Linked DNA regions of Homo sapiens: region 2 is linked to region 1. Evidence: fine-mapped expression QTL. A gene starts in region 1. The other region holds a variant in brackets. All regions are shown on one strand. Distances are from middle to middle.

Region 1 (9,944 bases):
GATGCTTCCCGCCATTAAGGACCAGGGGTGCATTCACTCTTTGTTTACCATTCAAATGGCTTACTTCATCATAATTGTGGTTGATATGAGATCAATATCCAACATGCCAAAAATGCTCATGCCAGTTAATGCCAGGAAAAAAATCACCGACACACTACTAGTACTTTGTTCCTGTTGTATGCATTCTCCTAGGTAGAGCCTCCATCTTCAGTTGTGTTTGTGAAGGTATTTTTTGCTTTTTAAATACTGGGGACCGATATCACTGTTGATAGTGCAGAGAAACCCTCCACATTTTTCAGTGCATAATTGAGTTTTCTATAAATGCCTTCGTGTTTTCTGAGCAGAATGTACGAGGTGTGCCATCCCAAAACCAGCTGCTACCCTGTCCTTTTAATGTAAGTCACTCCCCTTCACTGTGGCCTCGCTGATGTCTGATAAGTATTGTCAGTGTGCAAAAGGCTTTACTTCAGAATGGTTTATTTATAGCAAACTAAGTTGAAAATTTTAGAAACAGTCTTTGTGGGTGGATGTTATTAACTGTCATTGTTGTTGCCCAGAGCCATGGGTTTTTTAACCCCAAATTATCCACATGGTGTGTATTATGAATTCTTTGAACTCTTAAGGTTTTTGTGAGAAAAGGACTGTGAATTCAAAACAATAAGGCACTTGTGGGTGCACTACATAGATTCTGACAGTGTTGTGATTCTGTATAGGATTTTTAAAAATGACAACATTCACAAAATTTATTACTTTTTAAAAAATAACATGCCTATTAACTGGTTGCACTGATATAAAAGAAATATATTTGTGTTTTGTTTGTACTAAAATGCAAAAGCAAGAGTGCAATTTTTAAAATCTAGAAGTTAGGGGTTTTGTTGGAGAAAAATGGACTGATCTTTAAACTATTCAGTCTTACTGGGATTTTTATGCATAGAAACTCACATATAAACATGAAATAAACAGTGCCAGTATTCATAGGAAAGTGAGAAACTGTAATATTTGGCCATTATTCTATTCAACAGGTTTTAGAGGCATGCCACCATTTTTTCCTTATATTTTTGCTTAATTTTTTTAAATTGTCATTTAATTCTTAAACTGTCATTTATTTGAGATGGAAATAAGATCTAAAGTTAGTTGCCTTTGCCTGTAAAACATGTGATTTGCAAATTATTATTTTTCTTTTTTTTAACAAATGGAAGTAAATTTGTTTCACGTAAATCTTAATTTTCAACCTTTCTGGATACCTTAATTGTAACTGTCAGTTTGCACTGGTCGGTATATGGAAACACATTGCTCTACCCTGCTACTTAGTTGATTTTAAAGTGAATTTACAGTGATGAGAAATTTGTGAAAAATATATTGTATTTCTTTTGATGTTTCAAAAGGTTGCCTATGAAAAACTGATTTGTTAAAACATGCTACATGTCCAAAAATAAAGACCAGAATGACATTTTGATAATTTTCTGAGTTTGTCTTATTTTATGAACAGACTATTATTTACTAGTGGAACAGGCTATCCCTGCCCCCGACACATTCTTTTTCAGTGCAATTTGGATGTGTTGCTTGGTCTATTAGTAAAACAAGAAATACCCTTTGGGCGATGAATTACTCTGTCATTTTTTGTTTCTAGAATATCTTCTCTCTCTCACTCATGGAATAGCGAGTTCAATTGTGCCTTTGTTTCCTTACCCAAATAAGCCCTTGTTTTTCATTGCCCTAGCATTATCACGTGAGACAAGGAAAATATCTACAAACTATACTGTGTATGTGAGCTACATAATTATGCTTTCTACTTTGCCCAACACAAATTTGTAAACTTTCTTAAAACATTATGAGACTTGTGATTTTCTTTCTTTCTTTCTTTCTTTTTTTTTTAGCTCATCAGCTATTAGGGTATTTTCATTTATTTATTTATATATTTTTGAGACGGAGTTTCGCTCTTGTTGCCCAGGCTGGAGTGCAGTGGCACGATCTTGGCTCACTGCAACCTCCGCCTCCCGGGTTCAAATGATTCTCCCGCCTCAACCTCCTGAGTAGCTGGGATTACGGGCGCCCACCACCACACTGGCTAACTTTAGTATTTTTTAGTAGAGATGGGGTTTCACCATTTTGGCCGGGCTGATCTCGAACTCCTGATCTCATGATCTGCTGTTAGTGTATTTTATGTGTGGCCCAAGACAAATCTTCCAGCGTGGCCCAGGGAAGCCAAAAGATTGGACATCCCTGATTTAGTTTCTCCCACTCCTTTTGTGGGAAGCAGTGGAAAGCAGTCACCTATGTTTATGTTTTGATTTATCTTATGCCAAAACTTATTTTTGGCAAAGTCAGGGTAGTATAGGTCTGTGTTTACTTTTGTGAAGTAATTTTAAAGCCTCTTTATCCATCTCTGCATTCCCAAATGGATGTGGCTAGATGTTGAATTGTATCATCCTGTGGCTGGATTTTTTAATATAAAATTATGAAAAAGTTCTATGTAGAATTTGATTTGTAGCCTTTAGTACTTGGGGGAACTGATTTTTATCCTTTATCATTTCTATTTGGGTATGGCTCAGTGGTTCTCAACTAGGGCTTGGGGGGACAGTTTTGTTTCCCAGGGGACATCTGGCAATGTCTGGTTGTTACTACTAGGTGGGGTGGGGCATTGGCATCAAGTGAGTAGAGGTCAGGGTTGCTGCTAAGCATTCCGCGATGCTCTGGGCCATCCCCCACAACACATGTATCTGTCCCAAAATGTCAATAGTGCTGAGGCTGAGAAACCTTGGTGCTGTTGATGATTTCATCTGTGAAAGATAGCATGAATCAACTGTCCTTATGTATCAGTAGCCTTTTATGCCCATCACAAATGTAATGTTCAAATATAGTAAAGATGGTCTTGCCGGGCATGGTGGCTCACGCCTGTAATCCCAGCACTTTGGGAGGCCGAGGTGGGCGGATCACGAGGTCAGGATATCGAGACCATCCCGGCTAACACGGTGAAACCCCGTGTCTACTAAAAATACAAAAAATTAGCTGGGCGTGGTGGCGAGCACCTGTAGTCCCAGCTACTTGGGAGGCTGAGGCAGGAGAATGGCGTGAACCCGGGAGGCGGAGCTTGCAGTGAGCCGAGATTGCGCCACTGCACTCCAGCCTAGGAGTCAGAGTGAGACTCCGTCTCAAAAAAAAAAAAAAAAAAAAAAGATGGCCTCTCAGAAATAGTATAGACACCCATTTGAACCTTAATAAAGTTGAGCTTTTCATGGCCAACTTTTTTGGCGTGTAAAACATAGGACAGCCATGTTTTAAATGAAAAGACCAAAACAAGATTGAATAATGTTATAGAACAATGTACATCACTGGTCTGACATGACTAAATGATTGCCTACTTAGAGTATAATTGAAGAAAGATAAATGAAAAGGACTAAAAGAGTTGTATTCATGTATTTTCATACACTGGCATTCTACCAGGTAATATAAGCTCAGTAAAGTAAATCTTATGTTAATGTCTGTTCCTTGAGAGTTAAGACGACTCAAGGTCTTTATAGTGCTCTGATACACTGAAATCGATGAGCTGTATGTTGTGACTCAAGATTGTATTCTTACATGTCAGCTTTTTAATGTAGTGAAACAGTTCTTAACCAGGCAGTCATTCTAATTTGCCTGCATGCTAGGAGAAATTCCCATATTTTTGCATAAATCATTTGTTAAGATTTATTAGGCCACTTGTATAACTATATTTTGGCTTGTCTTTTCAATTGATTTTTAAAATTTACAAAATCGAACATAGCCAAGAATGAAGGCAGAGACCTAGAGTGATGAGGAAAACTAAAAATAAACCCATTTCACTTGTGTTGGCCAGCTGATAAGAGAAAATTGCCCAACTAGAGAAGGTTGATTCATGAAATATTTGGGTACTTCATCCAGAACCTAGGGCATCTCTTTTGTCCATTTCACTATGACTCTTCCATGATCAAGGATAGCCCACATTTTTCAGAAATGGGCACCACCTTTACCAATGCTTGAAATGCAAGTGAATGATCAGGAGGGAACCTTGCCATGGGACCTTGTCCCAGATGGAACTACCATGGCGAGTAGTCTGATGCTTCTAGTGTGACACTTACTTGGAGAGGCATCCAAGATAGGCCTTTTATTAAATACAGGCTTGGCCGGGTGCAGTGGCTCACACCTGTAATCCTAGCACTTTGGGAGGCCAAAGTGGGTGGATCACCTGAGGTCAGGGGTTCGAGACCAGCCTGGCCAACATGGCGAAACCTCGTCTCTACTAAAAATACGAAAATTATCCAGGCGTGGTGACGCATGCCTGTAATCCCAGCTTCTTGGGAGGCTGAGGCAGGAGAATCGCTTGAACCCAGGAGGCAGAGGTTGCAGTGAGCCGCGATCGCACCATTGCACTCCAGCCTGGGCAACAGAGTAAGACTCCATCTTAAAACTAAATACATACATACGTGCATACATGCATACATACATACATACAGCTTTAGGGTAAATTGTCTTTTTTTTTTTTTTTTTTGAGACAGAATCTTGCTCTTGTCACCCAGGCTGGAGTGCAGTGGCGCGATCTCGGCTCACTGCAACCTCCGCCTCCCAGGTTCAAGCAATTCTCCTGCCTCAGCCTCCTGAGTAGCTGGGATTACAGGCACCTGCCACCACGCCCAGCTAATTTTTGTACTTTTAGTAGAGACGGGGGTTTCGCCATGTTGGCCAGGCTGGTCGCAAACTCCTGACCTCAGGTGATCCGCCTGCTTCAGCCTCCCAAAGTGCTGGGATTACAGGAGTCAACCACCGCGCCCGGCCAGGTAAATGGTCTTTTTTAACTGGTCATATTTTAGATTTGGATTTAATCCTCTATAAACTTCAGAATTAAGAGAAAATGAAATGCTCCAGGGAGTAGTATTTCCCACTTAGAACATACAGCATATTTGCACTTCTTTTGTATGTCAAATAACTTGCTTTGTTTCTGTGGAAGCCAAGAAGTTTCTATCTTTCCAACCCTGCTTTCTAACATAAAATAGGAAAAATAGGGGTTTAGGAATATAAAATGTTTGGATATGAATCTTATCTGTTAGATAGTACTGAGTTATGTAGTTCTAGAACTATTGGATGTTTCTGGTTAGAAGGAAGTTTCTTTAGTTTATTTAACACTGCTGTGGAGTCAGCACATGCAGTCGCCAAATCAGTTAGATTAGAACCTACAGAGATCTCGGTAACAGGAGCACTGAGTGCTAGAAGGTTTAAAATAGATGTCATATGATACCAATTATAACTCAGTGAAATTTTACAGTCCTAGGACCCTATACAGAGCATAAGCCAAAATGGAAGATGGTCCTGTTTTCTATGGCTTTAAAAACATTTTTATTACAATGTTTGCTACGTTTTTTTTCTTTAAGCTTTTAATTAAAGTTTTTTTGGCTCTCCTAACCCATTTCTATATCGTCAAAGGAAATAGAAAAGAAGCGGCTAGGATAGCAGAAGAGATCTATGGTGGAATTTCAGGTAAAAGTACATGAATTTGTTCCTAATATTTAAAGAAAATCCCTCCTAGATAATTCATATGACTAGTATTTCTGGAAGGCAGATTATATTTATACTTTGATTTTAAGTGGGTAGTTTGAAAAATTGTCACTTAAAGTAGCAAATGCTGTTGGCTGCATCAATTTGTGGAGGATTTTCAGCTTTATTTTTTGCAAGTTCGTAGATCTTGTAGCAGTTGTTATTTAAGAAGTAAATAGGTAGTGGCTTACTAAGAGTATTTTGAGAAACTTCATTTCTACTAGCCAAAGTAATTACTTGTATATAATTATTTTCTTTAATATTTTAAAGCAAACTTTAACAATGAAGGGCATTCTAACCAGACTAAATTCTCTCAGGAAATAGAATGACTAATAAATTATAATTAAAGCAGCAAACGTGGCAAGCTATGTGTATTTTTTTTGCTGTCATTTGCAACTGGAATTGATTAACCACTTGTCACTGTCAGGAAAAGCTCTTCACTAAACCCATTTTATATGGTAGCATGCAAAGCACTCCAAACAAAGTTTATTCTAACATGAAATGCCAAGATTTGGGCAAAACATTTTAAATTCTCATGCTTTGTAGAGAATAGTGTCCATTTCTTTCAAGAAATGATTTACTTTAATTGTGGTGAGATGCTACAAAAGTAAATGAGTCAGATATCCCTGTCACTCCTGGGATTGTCACTTAATAGAGGAGTATTTATTCATAAACAGAGTTCAGAATTTCCCCGTGTATTTTTAGTGTTTGCAGGGGTTCCAGGATTACATCATTCTTTATCTAGTATCCATTTCAATTTGCATCCAGGATTCTCTTTCAAAATAGTCTTATGTGATTCCAATACACTAGACAACTCAGAAGACACTAGACAACAGCAGTCTTATCTAAAGAAATAAGACCTCCAAGGACGAAGCATCAGAATGCTTCAATTAACTGGGGAAAATGAGAAGAATTGTGAAGTTTCAGAACGTATCAGAAGGTCCGGACCATGGAAAGAGATTTCTTTTGGGGATTATATTTGTCACACATTTCAGGGAGGTATGTTACTTTGACTAGTTACAAAAAAAAAAAAAAAAAGTAATGCTTCTGATAAGTTTCAAGTTAAGCATGATCTGAAAAGTTATCTTCTAATTTAATTTGTCAATTTGGGCAAGGGCTTTCTAAAATTTTCAATAATAGTTTTGGTGTTCTCATAGATAAATCATTCTTCTGGTCTAAATTAGATGAAGTCCAACAAAGTCAATATTGGCAAGAACATGTTACAAATGTTTTCTCCTGTTGCACCTGCGCATTATTTCTGTCTTTGTGGTCTTTAATTAAGTGCACTCTTTTTTTTTTTTTTTTTTTTTGAGATGGAGTCTCGCTCTGTAGCCTAGGCTGGAGTGCAGTGGCACCATCTCGGCTCACTGCAACCTCCGCCTCCCAGGTCCCGGTTGAAGCAATTCTCCTGTCTTAGCCTCCTGAGTAGCTGGGATTACAGGCACACGCCACCATGCCCAGCTAATTTTTTTGTATTTTTAGTAGAGACAGGGTTTCACCATGTTGGCCAGGCTGGTCTTGAACTCCTGACCTCATGATCCGCCCGCCTCGGCCTCGCAAAGTGCTGGGATTACAGGCGTGAGCCACCGCGCCCGGCCTCAAGTGCACTCTTAAAAAAGGTATAAAACCTCCTTATAGTCAAAACCCATGTAAGCATGGTTTGAATTTAATCTGGAGCTGGAATACAAATCTCTTAAATACAGTTCGTTCATTCTGTAGTGCAAATATCTTTACTTGTTCAATCTCTTAAAATAGGTTAATTTGCAAGTAGCATAGTATTCTAAGGTCAAAAACATTTTTCAATTATTGTTAAAGAGGCAGGGAATGGTGCATGTTAATTTCCCAGTTTTATTTCTTTCATATATATATGTATATGTGTGTGTGTGTGTGTATACATATACACGAATCCCCCCACCCCCAAATTTACCAAGATTTGGTAAATAAGACTTTCTGTTTTTTTGTTTGTTTTGAGATGGATTCTTGCTCTGTCACCCAGGCTGGAGTTCAGTGGCACGATCTTAGCTCAGTGCAACCTCCTCCTCTGGGGTTCAAGCAATTCTCGTGCCTCAGCCTCCTGAGTAGCTGGGATTATAGGCGCACGCCACCACGCCCGGCTAATTTTTGTATTTTTAGTAGAGATGGGGTTTCGCTATGTTGGCCAGGCTGGTCTCGAACTCCTGACCTCAAGTGATCTGCCCACCTTGGCCTCCCAAAGTGCTGGGATTATAGGTGTGAGCACCTGTGCCTGGCCGCTAAATAAGTCTTTCTATAAGAATGTAGGCAGTAACATGCCTGGACCAGTATTTTTCACATGGTTCTGTGTTTTTCTTTTGATACCACTGTTAACAGTCAGATACTATATTATTACAAATCTTCCCCCGCCCCACAAAATACTTAAAAAATAACAACTCTTTATTCAAAACCCAGTCCTTTAAATATTAATGCAACTAGGCCAATACACCTAAACAATAAATCCTCCTCAACCCCTCAGTCTCTCTAATTCCTAAATTATCCCATAACAATATATTTAGGTGTATTAAAAATCAAGAACAAAATTTTGTGGAAGTGTTAAACTCAAACCAGAAATCAAACTCAAACCAGAAATCACCTTTGCTTTTGGTCACTTTTGCACTGGTCAGACAAATGTTTGTTGGGAAAATATATGACATTTAATCAGTAAATTAGCTAATTGACTTACAAAAGTCCCAGCCCAAGGTTAAGTTTCTTGAGTCTGCTAGCATATGCTATTCCTGTAAACTATTGTCAGCAATGTCAAAAGCAAGGAAGGGCAGGAAAAACCTAGCCAGCACACAGGTTAGACTTTTGTAGGTCCAGAGCACTCTTTTTTTTTTTTTTTTTTGGAAGCTGCATTTAACACCACATGCCTCATTAAATATCATTCTTTGTGCTGTAAAACCTTTTGGAAAGTTGTTTTTTTTTTTTTTTTTTTGTGCAGTGGGCGGGTGGGGGTGGATTTCATAGTCTGGAATACATTATTTTATATGTCTTTGTGGCTTAAACTATTACATTTGCTGATCACTCATCATAGTTGAATTAAGCCATGGTTGACTGTTATTAGTTTTGGTTTTTAAGCTTCTTTGTTTATTTTGTCTATTATATGTATATTTTTTTTTCTTTTTTAAAGTTTAATACATTGTCCTTGGCCTTTGGTGTTATGCCTAGAGCACCAGATGGATCACTGGATCCCACCTTCAGTCCATAGATATTTCTGCAGGCACTTTCTCAGGAGAGATGTATTGTATGATTTTTCAAGCTTTGCTAATTTGTATTAAGCTATGTTTAGTACTGTGACTTGGTCATCAAGAAAGAAAATATAGTGTAGATACAGATTGATCATCTGTTATTCATAACCCTTCAGCCAGCCATGTTTCAGAATTCAATAGCTTTTGAATGTTAGAAAGATCATACAATGTGCATACTGTCTATTGCACAGCACTTCTGGTGGGGCCTGGAGCTGCCTCCCACAGTCAAACATTTTGATCTTTCTATAGTGAACATATAGGTATTCACACTAGATGGAAATATAAAACAAATAATAAATTGCTTAACCTAAGTCCTGGCCATGCTTTGCTGCTAAACAAGTTTGCATCAAATTTGGGGTAAAGCTTGGTTTTCAGAATTGGAGGAACTTTACAAGTGCAGATAAGACGTTGTAGAACTGTAGTGCCCTCTTTCAAAAAAAAAAAGGGCTATTTTAAGCTGTGTCTAAAAGATCAGTCCTATTCTAAGTTTTATGCTTAAAATCACTTGTTGATGGACTGACCATGATTTGACAGCTATGCCTCTGCCTAACTCAGCATTCTGAATCCTTTTTCCTGTCTTTTCCATTCCAATAGGATCGCCTTAGTTTCATTCTTGCCCAAACCTCGACCTAGCCTTCTGCTCTTATTTAGTTTTGCTGGTTGTCTCCACAAACATTGGCCTAACCATCCTCTAAGTTGCATATCAGGTGCCTGCTGGCTTTTCCTAGGTTGGGACAACCAGTCCTTGGCAGAGGCTCTACCTTCCACCAGTCTCCTTTAGCTCAGCTCTCCCGCCCTTAAGAGTTCAAAGGAGCCTTCTTTCTAATACACTGCAACATAGTTAATTGTGTCTAACACAGCTCACTGTGTCTCATCTCCTCTCTAGGACTGGACATTCTGGAGAATATTTATTTTAACTCAGTTTTATTACAATATTTTAGATATCTCAGGAAATACATTCTATTTTCCCAGTTACCTTTGTTTCACATAAAATACCATTAATTCTGCTAGGCTCTTGCCTGTATTTTGGTTCAAAATTAAAATTCCTTATGAATTTTCTTTTCCTTAATAAATGCTACAGAAGATTTGTTTCATATGATTTTATTTTTTATTTTTTGAGTTGGAGTTTCGCTC
Region 2 (9,944 bases), 37 kb after region 1:
TAGTTCCTATACAGATCCAGCTTCTCTTCTGCTTTTAGAAAATTTCCGCCTCTTCCAGTTCTCTGATTTCCCCCTTCCACCCCACCTCCCACCACTATGAAGTTAACACCATTTTTATTTCTCTCTCAGGCCCACCTGCTCTTTCCCAGCTCTGCCGCCTGTGTGTCCGGAAGTGTCTCGGTCGAGCATGTCATCAAGCCATCCACAAGCTACATCTGCCAGAGCCACTCGAACGATTCCTCCTATACCAATAGTCCTAAGTGTTCCTGGGAAGATACTTGGAATGACACAGATTGTTGTCTGCTGTACCTAGAGTACCTAATGTAGAAGCTCAACAGCTTAGACTCCTAGTATCTTTAAATGAGCTCAGTCGAAGTAAATCCCCCATGAGCTAGAACACTTGAGGAGTGGAAACTCCTGGTTAGTTTAATGTTCTCATTAACCAAGGGGCAAGTAGAAACCATTTAGCTTTTAGCTCTTGTTGTTAAGAAACTTAAAAGAACTGTGAAGTAGAGTGAAAACAATAGGCTGTTTTTTGATGATTCGGGATCTTCTTGTACCTAAAAGTCAACATTCTGAATATTGTATAGACACATATAAATTCAGGTGGATAAGATTATAACAAATGTTAGGTATTCCAAGATATGTTCTTGATTTAGTTCCTTCCTTCAGCCCTTCCCCACTTTTTTTCTTTCTTTCCTTGAATAAATCTGGTATAATTTTGATTTTTTGTATATATATACGTATATATATATACATACATATACGTATATATATATACGTATATATATACACACACACACATGCACTCATATATTTAATGTTTTCAAAGTCCTTAATATATATAGTTCATATATGTTTTCAAAGTCCTTAATATATGTATAAAGCTTATATATATATGTTTTCAAAGTTCTTTATATATAAAGTTATATATATTTATATAGACTTTATATATATATACATATATAAAGTTAAGGACTTCAGAAACATTGTAGTTAACTGAGGCTTCCAGTTACTGCGGTCCTGGTTGATAAGAGAGACTTTGGAAGAGATCAGTGCACCCAGAGGTTGGCATCTATTGCTTATTGCTTCTGATATTAAATGCTGTTATTTGAAGTAAGCAGTTCTAGGATTGAGAACACTGGGTGTCCCCAACAACCTGAACCCACAGGCATTGTCTGAGGCATGTTGCAACCCAAGCACTGGCTTATTTTCAAAGTCAAGATGCTCAGGGTTTTTGAAATAATTACATACTGATGCCAGCCACCAAAGTGGGCTCAATGCTGGGTCAATATTTTTTTCTGTGGATAGGGGCCCAAAATAAGCACAAAGGTATATAAAAAGAGGCTTCTCCTTTTCTGTCTTCTCCTTCTTCTCATTTCTCTCTCCTTCTGTCACCCCTCCTCTTCCTCTATTCTTTCTCTTTTTTGTGAATTTAGAACATGGGAACTGGATAGACTTTTAATTATTGTAAGTATTACTGTCATGGTTCAGTATTCAGTTCTAAAATGAAAATTCCCTCTCAGATCATCCTAAGACTCATTTCACACATGTTTTTTTTTCCCCCAATTTTTCTAGACCTTTGGCTCTCAACTGGAGACAATTTTGCCCCACTCCCACTGAGACATTTGTCAATGTCTGCAGACATGTTTAGTTGCAACAACTGGGGGAGAATTGCTACTATCATCTAGACGGTGGAGATCAGGGATGCAGCTAATCACCCTACAGTGCACAGGAGCCAGCAACAAAGAATTATCAGATCTGGCCGGGCATGGTGGCTCACGCCTGTAATCCCAGCATTTTGGGAGGCCGAGGCAGGCAGATCGCACTGTCAGGAGTTCGAGAACCGCCTGGCCACTATGGTGAAACCCTGTCTCTACTAAAAATACAAAAGTTAGCCAGGCGTGGTGGCAGGTGCCTATAGTCCCAGCTACTTGGGAGGCTGAGGCAGGAGAATCACTTGAACCCGGGAGGCGGAGATTGCAGTAAGCCAAGATCACGCCACTGCACTCCAGCCTGGGTGACAGAGCGAGACTCCGTCTCAAAACAAAAAAAAAAAAAAGAAAGAAAGAAAGAAAGAAAAACAAACAAAAAAAAGAATTATCAGGTACAAAATGTCAATAGTGCCAAGAGTGAGAAACCCTTCTCTAAGCCTGTGCTATTCAATACAGTAGCTGCTAGCTACATATGGCTAATGAGCACAGGAATTGTGGATAGGCTGAATTAAGATGTGTTGTAAGTGTAAAATACATATTACATTTTAGTGATTGAGTAAAAAAAGAATATGAAACATTATGAACTTTGTTTTGTTTTCTTTTTTAGACGGAGTTTCACTTTTGTCATCCAGGCTCGAGTGCAATGGTATGACCTTGGCTCATTGCAACCTCTAAGCCTGTGCTATTCAATACGGTAGCTACTAGCCACATATGGCTAATGAGCACAGGAATTGTGGCTAGGCTGAATTAAGATGTGTTGCACGTGTAAAATACATATTACATTTTAATGACTGAGTAAAAAAAAGAATATGAAATACATGAACTTTTTTCTTTTCTTTTCTTTTTTGAGACGAAGTTTTGCTTTTGTCACCCAGGCTTGAGTGCAATGGCACGATCTCGGCTCACTGCAACCTCTGCCTCCCAGGTTCAAGCGATTCTCCTGCCTCAGCCTCTGGAGTAGCTGGGATTGCAGGCATCTGCCACTATGCCCGGCTAATTTTCGGTATTTTTAGTAGAGATGGGGTTTTACCATGTTGGCCAGGCTGGTCTCAAACTCCTGACCTCAACTGGTCCACCTGCCTCTTCTTTTTTTGTTTTATTTTTTATTTTTTTGTTTTGAAATATTAATAGCTTTTGATGTTGTATTTTTAATTTTTTGAAAACTTCCATACTGTTTTCCATAGTGGTTGTGGTAATTTACATTCCCACCAATAGTGTATAAGAATTCCCTTTTCTCCACATCTGCACCAGCATTTGTTATTTTCTATTTTTTGGATAGCCATTCTAACTGGGGTAAGATGATACCTCATTGTGGTTTTGATTTGCATTTTCCTGATGATTAGTGATGTCGAGCATTCTTTCATATACCTGTTGGCCATTTGTATGTCTTTTTTTTGGAGAAATGTCTATTCAGATCCTTTGCCCATTTTAAAATCAGATTATTTGTTTTGTTGTTGTCAAGTATGATTCAGCAATCCCATTACTGGATATTTATCAGAAAGAAAGGAAATCAATGTATGGAAGAGGTAGTTGCACCTCCATGTTTATTGTAGCTCTATTCAGAAAAGCAAGATATGAAATCAACTTAAATGTCTGTCAACAGATCAATGGATAAAGAAAATGTGGTATATATACAAAATGAAATACTATTCAGCCTTAAAAAAGAAGGAAATTCTGTCATTTGCAGCAACATGGATGAGCCTAGAGGACATTATGTTAAGTAAGTCACGCACAGAAAGATAAACACCATATGTTCTTGCTTACATGTGGAAGCTAAAAAAATTGAGCTCACAGAAACAGAGAGTAGAATTATGCTTATTAGAGGCTGGGAAGGGTAGTGAGGAGGGGACAATAGGGCAATGTTGGTTAATGGATACAAAATTATAATTGGATAGAAGAAATAATTTCTAGTGTTTCATAGCACTGTAGGGTAAATGTGGTTAACAATAATTTATTATGTATTTTCGAAAACCTAGAAGAGAAGATTTTGAATGTTCATAGCAGAAATGATAAATGATTGAGGTGATGGATATGCTAATCACCCTGATTTGATTACTTCTAGGTATTAAAATATCACTCTGTACCCCATAAATATATACAGTTATTACATACCAAATAAAATTAAACGAAAAAACTTTTTTGCTGATCACACAATGAAATAATCTTTTCAATATATTAGGTTAAATAGAATATATTATTAAAATTAATTTCACTGGCTTTCTTTTTACTTTTTTAGTGTGACTGTAATAACATTTTACATTACATGTGTGGCTCACATTACATTTCTATTAACAGTACTCTAAATCATTTTCTGATTTTTACAATTTTGGAATATCTAATAATCTTAATTAGTTAATTATCTGGGGGGAAAAGGTTACATTTTGATCTTACATCGTATTTCCAAAACAAATCTTGTTTTTAAAAAAAAGTTTAAAAAATTAAATACTGCTATAAAAATACTATAAGAAAATTACATGAATATACATGAAAGGGAAAGCATTTTTG[A/C]AATATATCAAAGGCAGAAAGGTTAAAGGAAAATACCGATAAACTGGAATACACCAAAAATTATGTTGCAAAAAATGCCATATATAAAATGAAATGGCAAACCAAAATAGAGGAAAACTGTATGTGACATTTATAGCAGATCAAAAGTCAATATTCTAGGGCAAAGGAGACTGTCAGATCCCACCCTTAGCTTTCTCCTTTTCCCAGTGGAGAATTTTGGTGAACAAGGATGTAAATATTACCCAAACCTTCAGTAAAGTCTAAAATGTATATGATACCTTGTGCATTTTTTAGAAGATATTAAGGAAAGAACCTAGATTATTTATCTGGCTCTACATGCTATAATATATGTATTGCATGACGTGGTGGCAAAACAATATGTAAACTTACCTGTTTCAGGTGGGATCAAATTCTCCTTCTATGAGAGATGTGACGAGAAAAACTGAAGAGTGTTTGCAAACCTTAGGAAAGTCAATTTTCACAAATCTTGAGGAAGGTACAGCGTAAGTCCAATGGCCATGAAAGGAGGTACAATTCAATGCGCCCCAAATATTGAAGGGCAGAATGATCTCAGCTGATATCTACATTTCAACATATAAAGAGTTCATTTACAAACCAATAAGAATAATATAGGTTCATGAATAGAAATATTAGCAAAGGGAATGAATAGTAAACTTATCAAATAACATACAAATAAATAGTCATAAGAATGTTAAAGATGGAAAATTGATTGAAAGAAAGGATGGATTTGAAACAGGATGAGGAGCCATTTGAGCCATCATTAGCCATGGAACGATCAAAGAGGAAAGAACGGACAGTCTCTTCCTATCATAGAACGTTTAGGAATTGGAGGCTTTCCTTCAAAGTGTTCTCGCGAGTGCATTTTTTTTTTTTTTTTTTTTTGTCATCTGGGATCTTGCTGAATGTCTGAGTACTGTGTTAAGCCCCGGGAGGCTCTAGGACATTCAACCAGTCTGTGACCCCAGGGAAGTGTTCCATTGCCCACTGCAACTGCAGACCATGGATGCCACAAATCATTTATATGGACCTCCCAACACTGGTAGGACTGTATTTGTGTTGGGGGAGGAGGTGGCACTCAAATCCTGAACAACCATTCACCAGAATCCATCTGATTGTCCAGGTCCCTGAATCCTAGAGTGGTGCCGATGTCTTACAATTTATGAATGAATGTATTAGACAAGAGGTAATCTTTAAGTTCCTTTTAAGGCCTAATCCATTAAGCTATATTTAGACCATCAGACTAATCATCTGGTTTTTATGACATTATTTTGTTACCAACTTTAGATCCAGGTTTGTTCTGCTTGCATGCAGTAAACCAATCACTGTGATACGGGTTTTGCAAAAGAGAAAAGATTTATTCACAAGGCTGCCAAGCAAGAAAGCAGGAGAACAGTGCTCAAATCCACCTTCCCAAAGATAAGCCTTAGCTATATTTACGGGTTAGGGAAGTGGGGTGGTCTAAGGCATGGGGAAAAGTAATTGACAGTGGGGATAAAAGTAACAGGTTTATTCTGTGCAAGCATAGCCAGGGTTCATGACATTACATAGGACATATAAACCCAAAATAGTGGCATTAGCATGATCTGAGGGTGGCATTTTTGGTCTTCTGACATTCAGAAGGCCATTTCTCAGGCACTTGTGGAGGCCTAGTTGAAGAGCCAGTGGCCTTAACTGGTTTGAACTGGACAGGAGCTGGCCCAAGTTCCTGAAAAACAACTGAAGCAATCATTACTGTGGTGAACTATGAATGTTATTTATAAAGTAGCCAGTGAAGGTTAAGTTTCAGAGTTCAGCAGGGTGGCATTCAACTACTGTAGCCTTCAGCTTCATGAAAAAAGAAAAGAAATAACAAAAAGCAAGCCACCAAAAGCAAGCAGGGCGGACAGACCTGATCAAATTAACCCTTCAGTTTCCATTTTGCCTGCGGTTTGGGGTTCTTAGATACTAATACAGATTATTTCACTTTTTACACTATATGGGATGTTTTTTTCCCAAAACAGTATATTTTTACAATTTCAGTCATATTTGAAGTGCCCTAAGATAGCTTCTCAATTAATTCCTTTAATACATTTTTTACTTGGCATCTACTATGTGCCAGACACTGTAGAACATTGTGAAAGACAGACATGCTGTTTGCTTCCAAAAAACTCATGTGTTAGTGAGGACAACAGGGAATAAACAATACAAATATAATATCATATCAGGAAGTGATAAAAAGAAAAATAAAGCAGATTAAAGAGTGATGAAAGAGGCTTACTATTTTAGATAAGCTGATTAGGCAAGGTCCCTGGCAGGGTGACTGAATTTTGGAATAACTAACTACTCACATATGTATATAATATTTATTAGTTAACTTTTACTGTTAAGATTTTTCAGTATTTTCAGTGCATCATATTTTTTATTCCTTTGCCTGATTTAACATAGATATCCTATTATAAAAGTATCTATGATTCCAGCTTTTCCCATAAACCATATTGTAATGATTTTCTGTTTCAAACCCTTTGGGACAACCTTTTAAAATATATCATATTCCTTAAGTATTTCCATATTGTTAGATACTTAAATTATTTCTAGTTTCTTGCTATTATAGATAACATTGATGTCAACCTCATTTTAAAATAAATCTTCAAAAATGTTTGAAGTATTTCTTAGATTTCCAGAAGTGTGGTTTACATATAAAAACTATTTAAAATAATAGTTTAAAATAATTTAAAATATATACACAATGAATCATTTTAAGGAATGAATATTTTCATAACCAAATACCCAATATTGCCTATCCATAAACCATCTGACTATGTCTATGTAGACATATATGTATTTACCATCTATTTAGCTAGCTATTATTTATATGACTGTATCAGTCCATCATCTACCTTTACCTTTTATTTAAAAAAAATAGGCTGGGCGCAGTGGCTCACGCCTGTAATCCCAGCACTTTGGGAGGCCACGGCGGGCGGATCACGAGGTCAGGAGATCGAGACCATCCTGGCTAACACGGTGAAACCCCGTCTCTACTAAAAAATACAAAAAATTAGCCAGGCGTGTTGGCGGGCGCCTGTAGTCCCAGCTACTCGGGAGGCTGAGGCAGGAGAATGGCGTGAACTCGGGAGGCGGAGCTTGCAGTGAGCCAAGATCGCACCACTGCACTCCAGCCTGGGCAACAGAACAAGACTACGTCTCAAAAAATAAAAATAAAAAATAAAAAATAAGCTTGCTATGTCACTTGAAGATTTAAGTCTCAACACCTTCTAAATTCCTTAAATTATTTAAATGTTTAGGTATGTAATCCAACGTCTCTAATTTTGGTTCACATTTGATTAAGGAACTGTTTCTCCCAAAGTAATTCTCCTGTCTTTTATTTCTCATATTGCTTTGTCAAATAAACATGAGGTTTGTACATGAATCTTTTTTCAGTAACAATGCTCATTGCTGAGAAGATTTTATGAATTGAACGCAAAGAGAATAGCTGACACTTCAGAGACATCACCTGAAGCTGCCATGGTGAGGGATGAATCGCTGAATAACCACAACTTGTGGGGGAGGATGCTCTCCACACTGCAGGACTTCACGTTTTTACCCATTGCATTATCACTGCCAGGGGCGGCACTTGCATGGATATATTCCATTTGTATATGGAATACATCATCTCCTTCCCTTAGCAGAGCCTGTACCAGGACAAATACACAGATCATACTTGAAATAGTAGCTTCTTATTTTAACAAATTTGCTTGTAAACAAATGTACACCAGGTCTTAATTTCCATTTATTAATTTTTCTTCTCCCACCGTTGTTATATCTTGAAGTTTCCAGCTTACAAAAAATTTTCAATAAAACAATTAATATCTGTATGCCCATCACCTCAATTCACCAATTGTTAGCATTTTGCTACATTTGCTTCTCTATGTATGTGTGTATGCACACACACATATATACAAGTACATGTATGTATATACATGTACATGCATATATACACACATATACATATACAGGCATGTATACACATACATATGCATATACAAATGTATACACATATATACATATATAAATGCACATGTGCACACACACCCATATATGTAAACTCATATATGATTAACACATATCCATATATTAAAAAAATGAACGATTTGTAAGTTGTGGGCATCATGATCCTTCACCAGGGCTAGAATCAGGATTAGGTGAGTGAGGCAAAAAATTTAAGAGGGCAAAAAAAGTCATTGATGTGCATATTTTAGTGCACTGTTTTGAAAAGTCAATGTTAAGGCAAAAAGCCCATGATAGCCAAAATAGCCTGCAAGACAGGCTCTTGTTGTTTATGTCCCTGCATTATTGTGCAATGAGAATAGTGTTTCCAATCAGCCTCTGGTTCTGGGATATGTGGCTGCTGGGTTTTTGAGGAGTGACAATGCCATGCAAACAGATTGGGCAACGCAGGCTTTATACATACTTGTGTTTTGACTGCGCAGCTTACATTAACTTTTTATACTTGGTGCAAAATATGCATAAAGGCATACATTTCCCTTTTGGCCTCTTGCTCCCATATGGTTCAGCACAGAGCAGTTCAGTGTGCATCTCCTAAGAACACAGAGATTCTCCTGTGGAACTGTGGTGTAGTAATCACACACAGGAGGTTTGACACTGATGCACAACTATCCTGTATATCCAGATTTAAGTTCTCACACTTGTGGCATTAATGATATATTTTCTGTCATGTTCCACCATTCAGGATCTCTTTGAGGATCATGCATCGAACGTAGTTACCAAGTCTCTTTATTCTCTTTTAATCTAGAAAGCTTCCCGTCCCCGCTTTTGACTTTCATGCCATTGGCATTTTTGAAGAGTCCAGTCCCATTGTTATGTGATTATCTCTCAATTTTGATCCGCCTGATTGTTTCCTCAAGAATACTGCATAATGCCAGATTTTTGAAAAAACACATTCTTATTTGAGTCTTATCGTACTGCTTGGCGGAGTAGGACTGACTGACTTCTCTCTAAAGCAGTAGAAGCAGAGTATTCCACGTTGTCAGAGCAGATGTATACCTTTTAGGTGTTAAAGGTTTTGTGCTAGAAAAATTGCCAGCTGAAATAAGAAGAAGCTTCAGCTCCTGGACCAACTTTGACTGATTGGAAGTGACTTTGAAGGCTCCCCCAAGGTCTCAGTGTAACTGAGCATCCCAGCCTCAAAATGCATTTTAAAACTTTTTTTTTTCTTTCTTGCTTTCAGCGTTGAAACATACTTTGAAACTCTTTGTTTCTCTCTTTTCCACCAGGCACTTTTGTGAACAGTGCTCACTTATCTAATTACATGCTTGCTTAGAAATTCCAGGGGTCAATTTTTAAGCAAAAAAAAAAAAAAAGGCACAGAGACCCAGCAGCAGAATCCTCCTGCTTGGGGGAGTTATGAACAGTTAGCCCACCACTACCGGGCAGAAGTGAGGATGACACAAACTGGACTTCCGGGCTGGCGATTAGTAAAGATAGCCATGGGAAAGAGACACACAGAGCTCTTCCCTCCCTTGATATTCCCACATTTTCCCACACCTTTTTCCTCCATAAACCCCTTCACTCAGCCCAAAAAGTTGGAACGGTCTTTCAAAGGCAGGCCATTCTCCAACTGGTAATGTGTCCGGAGTTGGTTCCTTCCAGTGGGTTCTTGGTCTTGCTGACTTCAAGAATGAAACCATGGACCTTTGTGGTGAGTGT

Direction of the effects. Positions count from the first base shown, and alleles are read on the strand shown. Sizes are in standard deviations (SD) of each study's normalised expression.
As copies of C replace A in region 2, the expression in skeletal muscle of the gene that starts at base 5,275 in region 1 goes up (small effect, 0.31 SD a copy in GTEx).

The links. PIP is the estimated chance that this variant, and not a neighbour inherited with it, causes the effect.
Region 2: its variant is the best candidate, but not a certain one, in a credible set for the expression of ASB11 in skeletal muscle (GTEx, PIP 0.77).

The regions. Positions count from the first base shown.
Region 1 is chrX:15,310,971-15,320,914 of GRCh38, reverse strand. It overlaps ASB11 (ankyrin repeat and SOCS box containing 11), which reads left to right and starts at 5,275. Exons shown (of 7, transcript NM_080873.3): 1 at 5,275-5,490. The coding sequence starts at 5,310. It overlaps PIGA (phosphatidylinositol glycan anchor biosynthesis class A), which reads left to right. Exons shown (of 6, transcript NM_002641.4): 6 at 1-1,459.
Region 2 is chrX:15,273,815-15,283,758 of GRCh38, reverse strand. It overlaps ASB11 (ankyrin repeat and SOCS box containing 11), which reads left to right. Exons shown (of 7, transcript NM_080873.3): 7 at 130-2,062. The coding sequence ends at 254. Among named protein-coding and RNA genes, the nearest start is that of ASB9, 8.7 kb to the right of the region's middle. The variant A/C (reference allele first, on the strand shown) is at 4,221.